Regions from separate parts of the Homo sapiens genome. Here region 2 is linked to region 1. The links come from fine-mapping of genetic effects on gene expression. Tissue or cell type: whole blood. Region 1 holds a variant in brackets; the other region holds the start of a gene. All regions are shown on one strand. Distances are from middle to middle.

Region 1 (5,229 bases):
AAATGGTGCTGGGAAAACTGGCTAGCCATATGTAGAAAGCAGAAACTGGATCCCTTCCTTACACCTTATACAAAAATTAATTCAAGATGGATTAAAGACTTAAATGTTAGACCTAAAACCATAAAAAACCCTAGAAGAAAACCTAGGCAATGCCATTCAGGACATTGGCATGGGCAAGGACTTCATGACTAAAACACCAAAAGCAATGGCAACAAAAGCCAAAATTGACAAATGGGATCTAATTAAACTAAAGAGCTTCTGCACAGCAAAAGAAACTACCATCAGAGTGAACAGGCAACCTACAGAATGGGAGAAAATTTTTGCAATCTACCCATCTGATAAAGGGCTAATATCCAGAATCTACAAAGAAGTCAAACAAATTTACAAGAAAAAAAACAAACAACCCCATCAAAAAGTGGGCAAAGGATATGAACAGACACTTCTCAAAAGAAGACATCTGTCTGGGTGCGGTGGCTCATGGCTGTCATCCCAGCACTTTGGGAGGCTGAGGCGGGTGGATCACGAGGTCTGGAGATCGAGACCATCCTGGCTAACATGGTGAAACCCTGTCTCTACTAAAAATACAAAACAAAAAAAATTAGCTGGGCATGGTGGCAAGCGCCGGAGGCTAAGGCAGAAGAATGGCATGAACCCGGGAGGCAGAGCTTGCAGTGAGCCAAGATCACGCCACTGCACTCGAGCCTGGGCAACAGAGCAAGACTCCGTCTCAAAAAAAAAAAAAAAAAGAAGACATCTATGCAGCCAACAGACACATGAAAAAATGCTCATCACCACTGGTCATCAGAGAAATACAAATCAAAACCACAATGAGATACCATTCTTGCCAGTTAGAATGGCAATCATTAAAAAGTCGGGAAACAACAGATGCTGGAGAGGATGTGGAGAAATAGGAACACTTTTACACTGTTGGTGGGAGTGTAAATTAGTTCAAACATTGTGGAAGACAGTGTGGCGATTCCTCAAGGATCTTGAACTAGAATTACCATACGACCCAGCAATCCCATTACTGGGTATATACACCCAAAGGATTATAAATCATGCTACTATAAAGACATATGCACACATATGTTTATTGTGGCACTATTCACAATAATAAAGACTTGGAACCAACCCAAATGTCCATCAATGATAGACTGGATTAAGAAAATTTGGCACATGTACACCATGGAATACTATGCAACCATAAAAAATGATGAGTTCATGTCCTTTGCAGGGACATGGATGAAGCTGGAAACCATCATTCTCAAAAAACTATCACAAGGACAGAAAAGCAAACACCACATGTTCTCACTCATGGGTGGGAATTGAACAATGAGATCACTTGGACACAGGAAGGGGAACATCACACACCAGGGCCTGTCAGGGGATGGGGGGCTGGGGGAGGGATAGCATTAGGAGAAATACCTAATGTAAATGATGAGTTGATGGATGCAGCAAACCAACATGGCACATGTATACCTATGCATCAAACCTGCACATTGTGCACATGTACCCTAGAACTTAAAGTATAATAAAAAAAAAAAAGAAGAAATCCACTACAGAAGGAACCAAGGAATTTAAGCATCAAAATTCCCACCTGCCCCCCACCATTTTTTTGTGAGCCCAGGATGGCTTTGAACTCCCAGGCTCGAGCAATCCTCCCCAGTCAGCCTCCAGATAATTACAGGCATGAGCTACCAAGCCTGGTTCATCTTCTCTGATTTTTCTCAATGTCACTTGAGTCTTTTGTGGCCCACACTAGTTAGGGGAATAGCCTGATCATCTGGCCAGATCTAAACTGAAATATCTGATGAGGCAGCTATATTTGGAGGGGCTGACCTGAGATATAGAAGATTAAGATCTGGTACTGAGGATTCAGGCTTGTAAGGGAAAGCTTCGAATGCAAATTATATGCACCCTAATTTTTTTTAACCGATTCTTTCTTCTGGTTATAATTTACTTTTTTTGGAGATTGCATATATTTACACTTATTTGCTAGGTGCTTGTATTTCTTTTCTGAATTGCCTTTTCATCTTGATGGTGTATTTTTTGTTCAGTCACTTAGAATAAAAATTCAAGTGTGAAGAAAGAAAAATACTTTAAGGCTTAGAAATGTAACCTTTTGCTTTATTTTAGAAATTTTTATTTATATGATTATGCATTTCCTAGATACTAGTTCTTTCTGTTCAAGGCCATTTACTCCAACACCCAAGTGGATTTCTTGATTGCAGATTTATTACTATAGGATGTATTTGGGTAGAATTATTTCTTCCCATTATACTGGCCTTATTCACACTTCTGTGCTTTAACACAATGAAAAATTGCTTT[A/G]ACATTGAAGTTCTGTATTGAGTCCCACAAGATATTATTCCCTTACAGCGCTTGTATTGTAAGCTGCAAACTGAACATTTGAAAAATCAAAATGAAAGCATGTAGCATAAAGGTCTGCCTTTTTTTTTTTTTTTTTTTTGAGACAGAGTCTCACTCTGTCGCCCAGGCTGGAGTGCAGCAGAGCGATCTCGGCTCACTGCAAGCTCCGCCTCCCAGGTTCACGCCATTCTCCTGCCTCAGCCTCCTGAGTAGCTGGGACTACAGGGACCCGCCACCACGCCTGGCTAATTTTTTTTGTACTTTTAGTAGAGACAGGGTTTCACCGTGTTAACCAGAATGGTCTCGATATCCTGACCTCGTGATCTGCCCACCTCGGCCTCCCAAAGTGCTGGGATTACAGGCGTGAGCCACGGCGCCCAGCCAAATGTCTGCCTTTGAAGGATAATGGCGTGCATGTAAGGTGCTGTTAAAAAGTATTGATTGCATTAGCAGCACCTTGATTTTAGCACAGAGGTCAGCAAATTAGTGGCTGTAGGCCAAGTCCAGCCCGCTGCCTGTCTTTGTAAGTACTTTTTTTTTAACCTTTAAGCTCTGTTGGACTTGAGTAAGTAAAGTTTTACGGAACACAGAAAATAAAATAAAATGAAATAAAAAATAAAAATAAAGCACACTCACACAACATTATGACACTTTGCATTTGTATTTGGTGTATTTATGACTATTCGACCTAATTGTGCTTTTTGAAGTTAGATTCCTAGTACACAGTATGTCTGTAACTGAATATTTTCAATAAAATTTTGGTATATCAGAAACAAGAATTTTAGTATAATATTTCTAAAGGAAGTTTTTAGTCTCAATTACCAAACTGACATTTCCAGTGAGCTAAAATCTCTCATGTATAACCAAAACTGAATCATTTTCAAAGTTACAACTTATTCAAAATATTCGTAAGATGTTTCAAATATCAAATATCTGCTGCTCACTAAGATGGCCCTTTATTTCTGGGCAAAATATTTCTCATACTTACAAAGTTTCTCCCCTTCACTGTTTTTAATGTAAACTGAGTAGGTTAAGTAAGAAAAGGTTTCTGGACTTTCAGAAGATGCTAACAGGGACTTCTCTCTGTACTTTCTCAGATTAGTGAATTCTGATAAAAGGCTCTCCACATTTGTAGATTCACAGGATTTCTGCCTTCTGTGTGTTTTCTGATGTGCTATAAGTGATGACTTCTGGTAGAAAGTCTTCTCACATTCATTACATTTGTAGGGTTTCTCTCCTGTGTGGGTTCTCTGATGTACTGTGAGGGATGACTTGTGGTAAAAAGTTTTGCTGCATTCATTATATTTATGAAGTTTCTCTCCTGAGCTCTTTGATGTTTAGTAAGTGCTGATTTCTGGTTAAATGTTTTGCTGCATTGAATACATTTATATGGCTTCTCTTTTTATGTCTTTTTTGATGTACAGTAAGGGATAACTTCTGGGAAAAACTTTTCCCACATGCATTACATTTATATGGTTTCTCCCCTGTGTGTGTTCTCTGATGTACTGTAAGAGATGACTTCTGGGAAAAGGTTTTCCCACATTCATTACATTCATAGGGTTTTTCCCCTGTGTGAGTTCTCTGATGCACAATAAGTTTTGACTTCACTGAGAAAGACTTCCCACATTCATTACATTCACAGGGCCTTTCTCCAGTATGAGTTCTCTGATGATAAGTGAAGTCTGGCTTTTGTGAGAATGTTTTCCCACATTCGTTACATTAATAGGGTCTTACACCTATGTGTATCCTTTGATGTACTATGAGGAATGAATTGTAAACAAAGGTTTTTCCACATTCTTTACCCTCATGGGATTTCTCCCCTGTGTGAGTTCTCTGATGTACTTGGAGATATGACTTCTCACAGAATTTTTTCCCACATTCACTACACTCATTGGGTTTATCACCTGTGTGTGTTCTCTGATGTACTGATGTACTGTAAGGACTGACTTATATCTAAAGGCTTCCCTTCAGATATAAGTCACATAACCTAATGACACTTTGCATTTGTATGTATCGAATGTGCATGACACATTCAATACATTCTTAGGGTTTTTGCCCTGTGTGTATCTGCCAATGAACTGTAAGGCCTGACCTATTTGTGAAGGTTTTCTCACATTCAGTACATTCATAAAGTTTCTCCCCTGTGTATATCCTATTATGTACTATGATAGATGAACTGTGGCTGAGAGCTTTCCCACACTCATTACATTCATAGAACTTTCCTCCTACGTGTGTTTGCTGATGTTTAGGGAGAACTGACATATGCCAAAAAGAACTCCCATAATGACTATTTTGAAAGGTTTTCTTTTCTGCGTATGTATGCTGTTGAGAGAGACTTGGTTTCTTAAAGATTTCCCTACCTTCATTACATTCAAAGCTTGTTTTTCCTTTTTGAGTTCTTTCAGTGTCAATAAAGAGTGACTTTTGCCAAAATTATTCTCACACTCATAGTATTTTTTCCCCATGATTCCTCCATGGTGTTTATTTAGAGATTTCTCACCAACAGACCTCCTCCCACAGCAATTAAACTCGTAGTGATTTTCCCTTCTGTGAGTACTCTGATGAACAAGGAGGTTTGGATTGTCAGAAAAGGCTCTTAGTTGTTCATTATATTCACAAGGTTTCTCCCAGAAGCACACTCTCTTATGGGTACTGAAGGCTGCCTCCTCATGAAAAGCTTTCCCACACTCAAGGTATTCAAAAATTTGCTTCAGAGTTTGAATATCCTGATGCTGAAATAAGTCCTCATTCTAACAGATGGCTTTCTCATTTCTGTCACACTCAAAATGTTTCTCTCTGGCATAAGGATGCTCATGTCATATGAAGGAGCAATTTCGCATGTGCACTGAGCTCATCAAGCTT
Region 2 (5,229 bases), 49 kb before region 1:
TTTGATCTTTACACATAATATTAATCAAATTATCACATGTACCCCCAAAATATGTGCATCTATTATATACCAATTTTTAAAATTAAGTTAAAAATTAAATTTTGGGTTTTGCATGTGAAAAAAGAGAGAATATGGGAGAAAAGAAATTGGAAACATCCCTTAGGGACAATTTTTTTAGGAGTTTTGCTGTAAAGCAAAGCAGAGAAATGAGGTAGTGGCTGGAGAGAAATAGGGTGCAAGGTAAGGGGTTTTATTTATTTTATGGACAATATTACAGTGTATTCATTAGTATGCTGATAATTCAGTACAGAATGAAAATCTTGAAATACAGAAGAGAGAGAAGGACCTCATTCATGAGAAAGCATTTAACATCCAGGGTGCAAAAGAATTTTCTCATATAGGAACTAGGGCCAGTGACTCAGAATGAAAAGTAGAGCATACAGTTTCTAATGCAGAGAGGAGGGCAGATGTGCCTGTGAGGCGGTATAGAAGTTCTCTTTACTCAGTAACAGAAAGCAAAGTCATCAGCACTCAGTGAGATGGGAGGAGTTGTTGGCGGCTTGAAAAGAGAGTAGAAGACCAGGCATGGTGGCTCAGCCTGTAATCCCAGCACTTTGGGAGGCTGAGGTGGGACGATCGCTTGATCCCAGGAGGTGGAGACCAGCCCGAACAACATGGTGAAACTTCATCTCTTAAAAAAAAAAATACAAAAATTAGCCTGGTGTGGTGGCGCAAGCCTATAGTCCCAGCTACTTAGGAGGCTGAGGTGGGAGGGTTGCTTGTGCCCAGGAAGCAGAGATTGCAGTCAGCCAAGATCGCACTACTGAACTCCAGCCTGGCTCAAAAAAATAAATAAATAAATAATGAAAAGAGAGTAGAACCTGTGAAATAGTCATTTAGGAGAATGGATGGACTAAGAAATGTAGAAGGATAGCCAGGCAGCGTGAAGGGCCCACTTGAACTTAATGGTTATAAACTGAAAATGAAACCAATCATCCCAGCCATGTGGTTTTCTCAAACAACCTCTGCCGTACAGGCGCAGGCCAGGAACTGGATTCAAGCAGATTTGGGTTTCCATCAAGAGAATAAAACCAAGAAAGACTGGGACAAGAGAGTTAAGGGTAACGGCACATACACAGGACTGGCCATAACCATGCTCCATGGCCTCTTAAATTGAGTGAGGAGAGAAGTGAGCACATGAGGAAGTGAAGGTCAGGGCAAGGGTGGTAAATCTAAATAGGGAAAAGCTCTGTGGTTTTCCAATGAAGAATGAGGAGAGGAGTAAGGTCCAAGGGAGACATTTTGTGTTCCCCAGGCAAAAGGTAAGACAGCATCTCTGAGGAGGAGACCGAAGGGGACGTGGGCCTCTCCAAGCATCGCAGGCTGAAAATAATAGTCCCCCAAATATGTCCATGTCCTAACCCCCAGAAGCTGTGGATGTTAATTTCTATGGCAAGAGGGATTTTTTTTGAAATGTGATTAAATTAAGGATCTTGACGTCAAGAGATTATCCCAGATTAGCCAGCTGGGCCTGATGTAATCACAACAGTCGTTATTAGAAGGACCCACGAGGAGCCAGTGCCTGAGCATGTGATGTGATGATGAAGGCAGAGGTTGCAGTCATGCACTTTGAAGATAAAGGAGCGAGCCATAAGCCAAGGAATGCAAATAGTCACTGGGAACTGGAAAAGGCAAAGAAATATTCTCATCTAGAACCTCCAGGAGGAACTAGCCCCACCAACACTGACTTTATAAAGCCCAGTAAAACTTGATTTCAGACTTGGCACCTCCAGAAGTTTAAGAGAATACATGTTTGTTATACTACTAAGTTTGTGTTAATTTGTTGTGACAGCAATTGGAAACTAATACACCAAGGAAGGGGGAGGATGTAGAAGAGAGGTCCAGGCAACATCTCTTTCCTCTCCAAAATAAATCTGAAAGAAAGGAATTGGGAAAAGACCAAATGGGTAGCTCTGTGTCACTCGGTGAGAAGTGAAATAAACGTAAAATCCTGGTATCAACAACCCTTGTGTGCGTTTAGGAGAGTTCTGACTGCTGGGAGCCACTTGTCTAATTCCCTCACCTCCTGTGTTTGTTCCAAGATCCCCTATTTAAAATTGCAAAGTACACCTCCAGTCCTACACACCCACAAACGCACCTCGCCACACCCCGCCCAGCTCTATGCTTTCAGTACCACCTCATGACACACACGACGCCATATATTTACTATATTTATGGATTGCTTGTTTCCCCAACTAGAATAGGGCAGTGACTTTTGTGCAAGCATCTTGAACAGCTCCTGGTACACAGTTGGCTCTCAATTAATATCTGTTAAATGGATGAACTTCAGAGGTGAGATGGAAGATGCCGAATGGCAAATATTCACTTCAGAATGTTTTGAAAGGTAAAGATGAAATTATGGGTATTTACATCCTTTTCCCCCAATAGTATTTTAACAAATGAAAATCACCTTAACAGGTATTCCTAAAATAATTCTTATTTGTTTGTAATAAAAAACGAGGAGGAGGACTTGAATACACGCGTCGCTGACTCAAAGATGGTCCCCTCCGCCCAAGAATCCCGCTCCGCACAGCGCAGAGTTCAGGGGCCCGCGCCGGAAGTGGGCGTGGTTCGCCCGCGGCTTGCTGGGACTTGTATTTCGGGGCCCTAGGCGCGCGAGCGGTCAGCATCCGGAATCTGGCCCCTGCAGGCGTGGGGTTCCACGTGGGAGGTGAGACTGGCCGGGCTTCCCCAGCCGCTGGCAGAGGCGTTCAGGGGTCAGGAAATGGGTGTGCCGCGGGTAAGGCGCTGGGCCGCCGAGCTGCGGAAGCCGGGAGGGCGGCGATGGTAGGGCACGCGACCAGCGGAGGCGCGGCCCGCGGCGGCACGTGTGTCCCGGCGCCGCATTTCCGAGCTGCTGCGCCCCCGGGGCCGGGCTGCGGCCACACCGAAGCCTGTGGGGCCCTGCAGCTGAGCGGCCGCGCCTCCGATGGCCCCTCCTCCCTCCTGGCCGAGCTCTGGCCTGGGCCGGCTGGGGGCTTCGTGGTTGGCCACGCCGGCCTTTTCCTCGCCTGTGACGGGCGTTATTGCAGGGGGGTTTTCGGTGGACGTTAGGCGACGGACGGGGGCTCCTGTAAGAGACTGAGGTTTCTGTCCGCAGCACTGCCTTCGCTGAAAAGAGCTTGCATCTGAGCCCCCGCACCGCAGGAACGAGCCAGGCTCCTGAGAATGAGGTCGGGGAAGGCGTCTTGGGCAACCGAAATCCATCCCGAGAAGCTTCTCCTCTTAACTAGAACTTTAGGACAGAGATCGGGAAAGTCAGAGGAAATGGGCACGGCTTCGAGCTGCCGGCGGCTGCGGAATTTACCTAGCCTCTTGGTTTTGGGGGGAAAACTTGGCTTGTTTAATCGAAAGCCCTGTGGAGAGAGATGAAGGTGGTGACAGAAAATGCTTCACCTCTCACCTGATGGAGGGAGTGTGGGTGGAAGTGACTGAAGAAGCGTCAGAGGCAGGAGCGGAGTAACTTTTTCCCCGCAGTCTTGCTGGACTTGATTTTCATGGCTTTTTCTCTTTCCCTAACTCTGCCTTTCCAGGAATCCATCCCCTCTGGGAGTAAGAAATGACCAGGGTCCGGGTGAGTTGGCGTTCCATTTCTCCTAAAATGCCATCTCCCTGAAATGTCCCTGTGCCATGTGTTGTTTTCTTTATTGTCAGGCCCCCAGTACGGTATTTTATAGCTATGGATGTAGGGACATTAAGATACTAAGGACATGTAGCTAGCAGATGATGTCACCAGGGTCTGCACAGAGAGTTTTCACTGGCCCATCCTGCCTCCAAGAATTTATTCCACTCCTCAGAGCAGTGGGCTGTGCCCTCCTGGGGAGCCTCTCAAAGCCTGCCTTTTCCTGCCAGACATTTCACTCACATTGAAAGTCATTCCAAGCTATTCCATACTCATCCCAGTGCTAAGTGGTCTCAGCAAAACAGATAGAATGATAAACCACGGTGCTTTTCTTCAAGGAGCTTACCATCTTGATGAACATATTATATTACCTGTACACAAAAAAATGCATATTAATAGTGATAATTTATTAACTATGAGTCAAAAACGAGGAAATTCGTTAAATGGCAGCACAGTGGTTACAAAATCACTCTAGAAATGCTTTTCAACTAGGCTATGCATCAGAACTCTCTGTGGTGTTTTTTAAGAACTAAGCTTCCTTCTCTCTTCCAGACCTAGTGAAAGGAGAGTTTCACTCCTTTTTTATTCTGTTGATCTTTGTACATCCAAAGGTTTATTGTGAAATATCTCTCTATACACTATAAGTGTCTCTAGGGTAGGTAAAATGAGTTATTCATCCTTTATACTCAGGTTGATTTGTTCTCTTTCACTAGCATGTCTACATATTTAACTGTTCCAGTAAATTTTAAATTACCAAGTCGTACTTTTTTAAAGAGAGTTTTCAGTTGTCCCCATAAAACCATCTGTAGGAGGTTACCTCAAAATTAACCCTTAGACTCCCAGGGTATTTGAGATGGTCAGCCCCCACTTAGAATCCCATGGTGTTTGAGATGGTCGGCCCCCTCTTTGCCCTGTCCTGGCGTTTTATGGTGGAGAGCTCTAACTCGGCTAACTCTGAGAGAGCCGAAGGAAAGTGCCTTGTCCTTTGTTTCAGAGAGCAGAAGGCCAGAAATAAACCCCGTGTTTTCTTCCTTCAGGCTGTTCTTTCTCCATTAACTAAACAGGTCATCACATCAGAAGTTGTTTGAATAAAATATCAGACTGCGTTTTAAGGGAAAAAAAATGTTTTTTAACACTACCAGCAAAGGCCATCTTTTTGCTTGGCAAATACAGCCCTCACACACATGAGCTCTTAGAAAAAATCTGTTTAGAGGACAGTAAGCTGACTTGAGGTACTGAGAGCATGGCTTCTCTGTGCCCTGAAAAGTAATTGAGGACTTCAAGGGAGATTAACCTTAGTAGAATCAATACATTTTCCTTCCTTCGCTTCTGCCTGCTCCCTAATGATTAAGTATTCACTGCCGCTGCAACTGGGGATTGCCAGTTTAGTAAATTTTGAGATTCTGGTGTGTGTTACACAACAACTTTTTTAATTTAAAGGAAGGACTTCATTCCAAGCATTGTGTGTTTTCTATGTACCACACATTGTCCTTAGGTCTGCTGAAAGGCGGGAGTCTTAGTTAACCCTGCTTTTCCTCTGTGACATT

What was found. PIP is the estimated chance that this variant, and not a neighbour inherited with it, causes the effect.
Region 2: it holds the start of ZNF239, and the variant in region 1 is the best candidate, but not a certain one, in a credible set for the expression of ZNF239 in whole blood (INTERVAL, PIP 0.85).

The regions. Positions count from the first base shown.
Region 1 is chr10:43,523,484-43,528,712 of GRCh38, reverse strand. It overlaps a transcript of ZNF487 not described here and the pseudogene LOC100130881. Among named protein-coding and RNA genes, the nearest start is that of ZNF239, 49 kb to the left of the region's middle. The variant A/G (reference allele first, on the strand shown) is at 2,329.
Region 2 is chr10:43,572,042-43,577,270 of GRCh38, reverse strand. ZNF239 (zinc finger protein 239) reads left to right here and starts at 2,655. Exons shown (of 4, transcript NM_001099282.2): 1 at 2,655-2,731; 2 at 3,594-3,634. RefSeq lists a silencer at 2,873-2,932.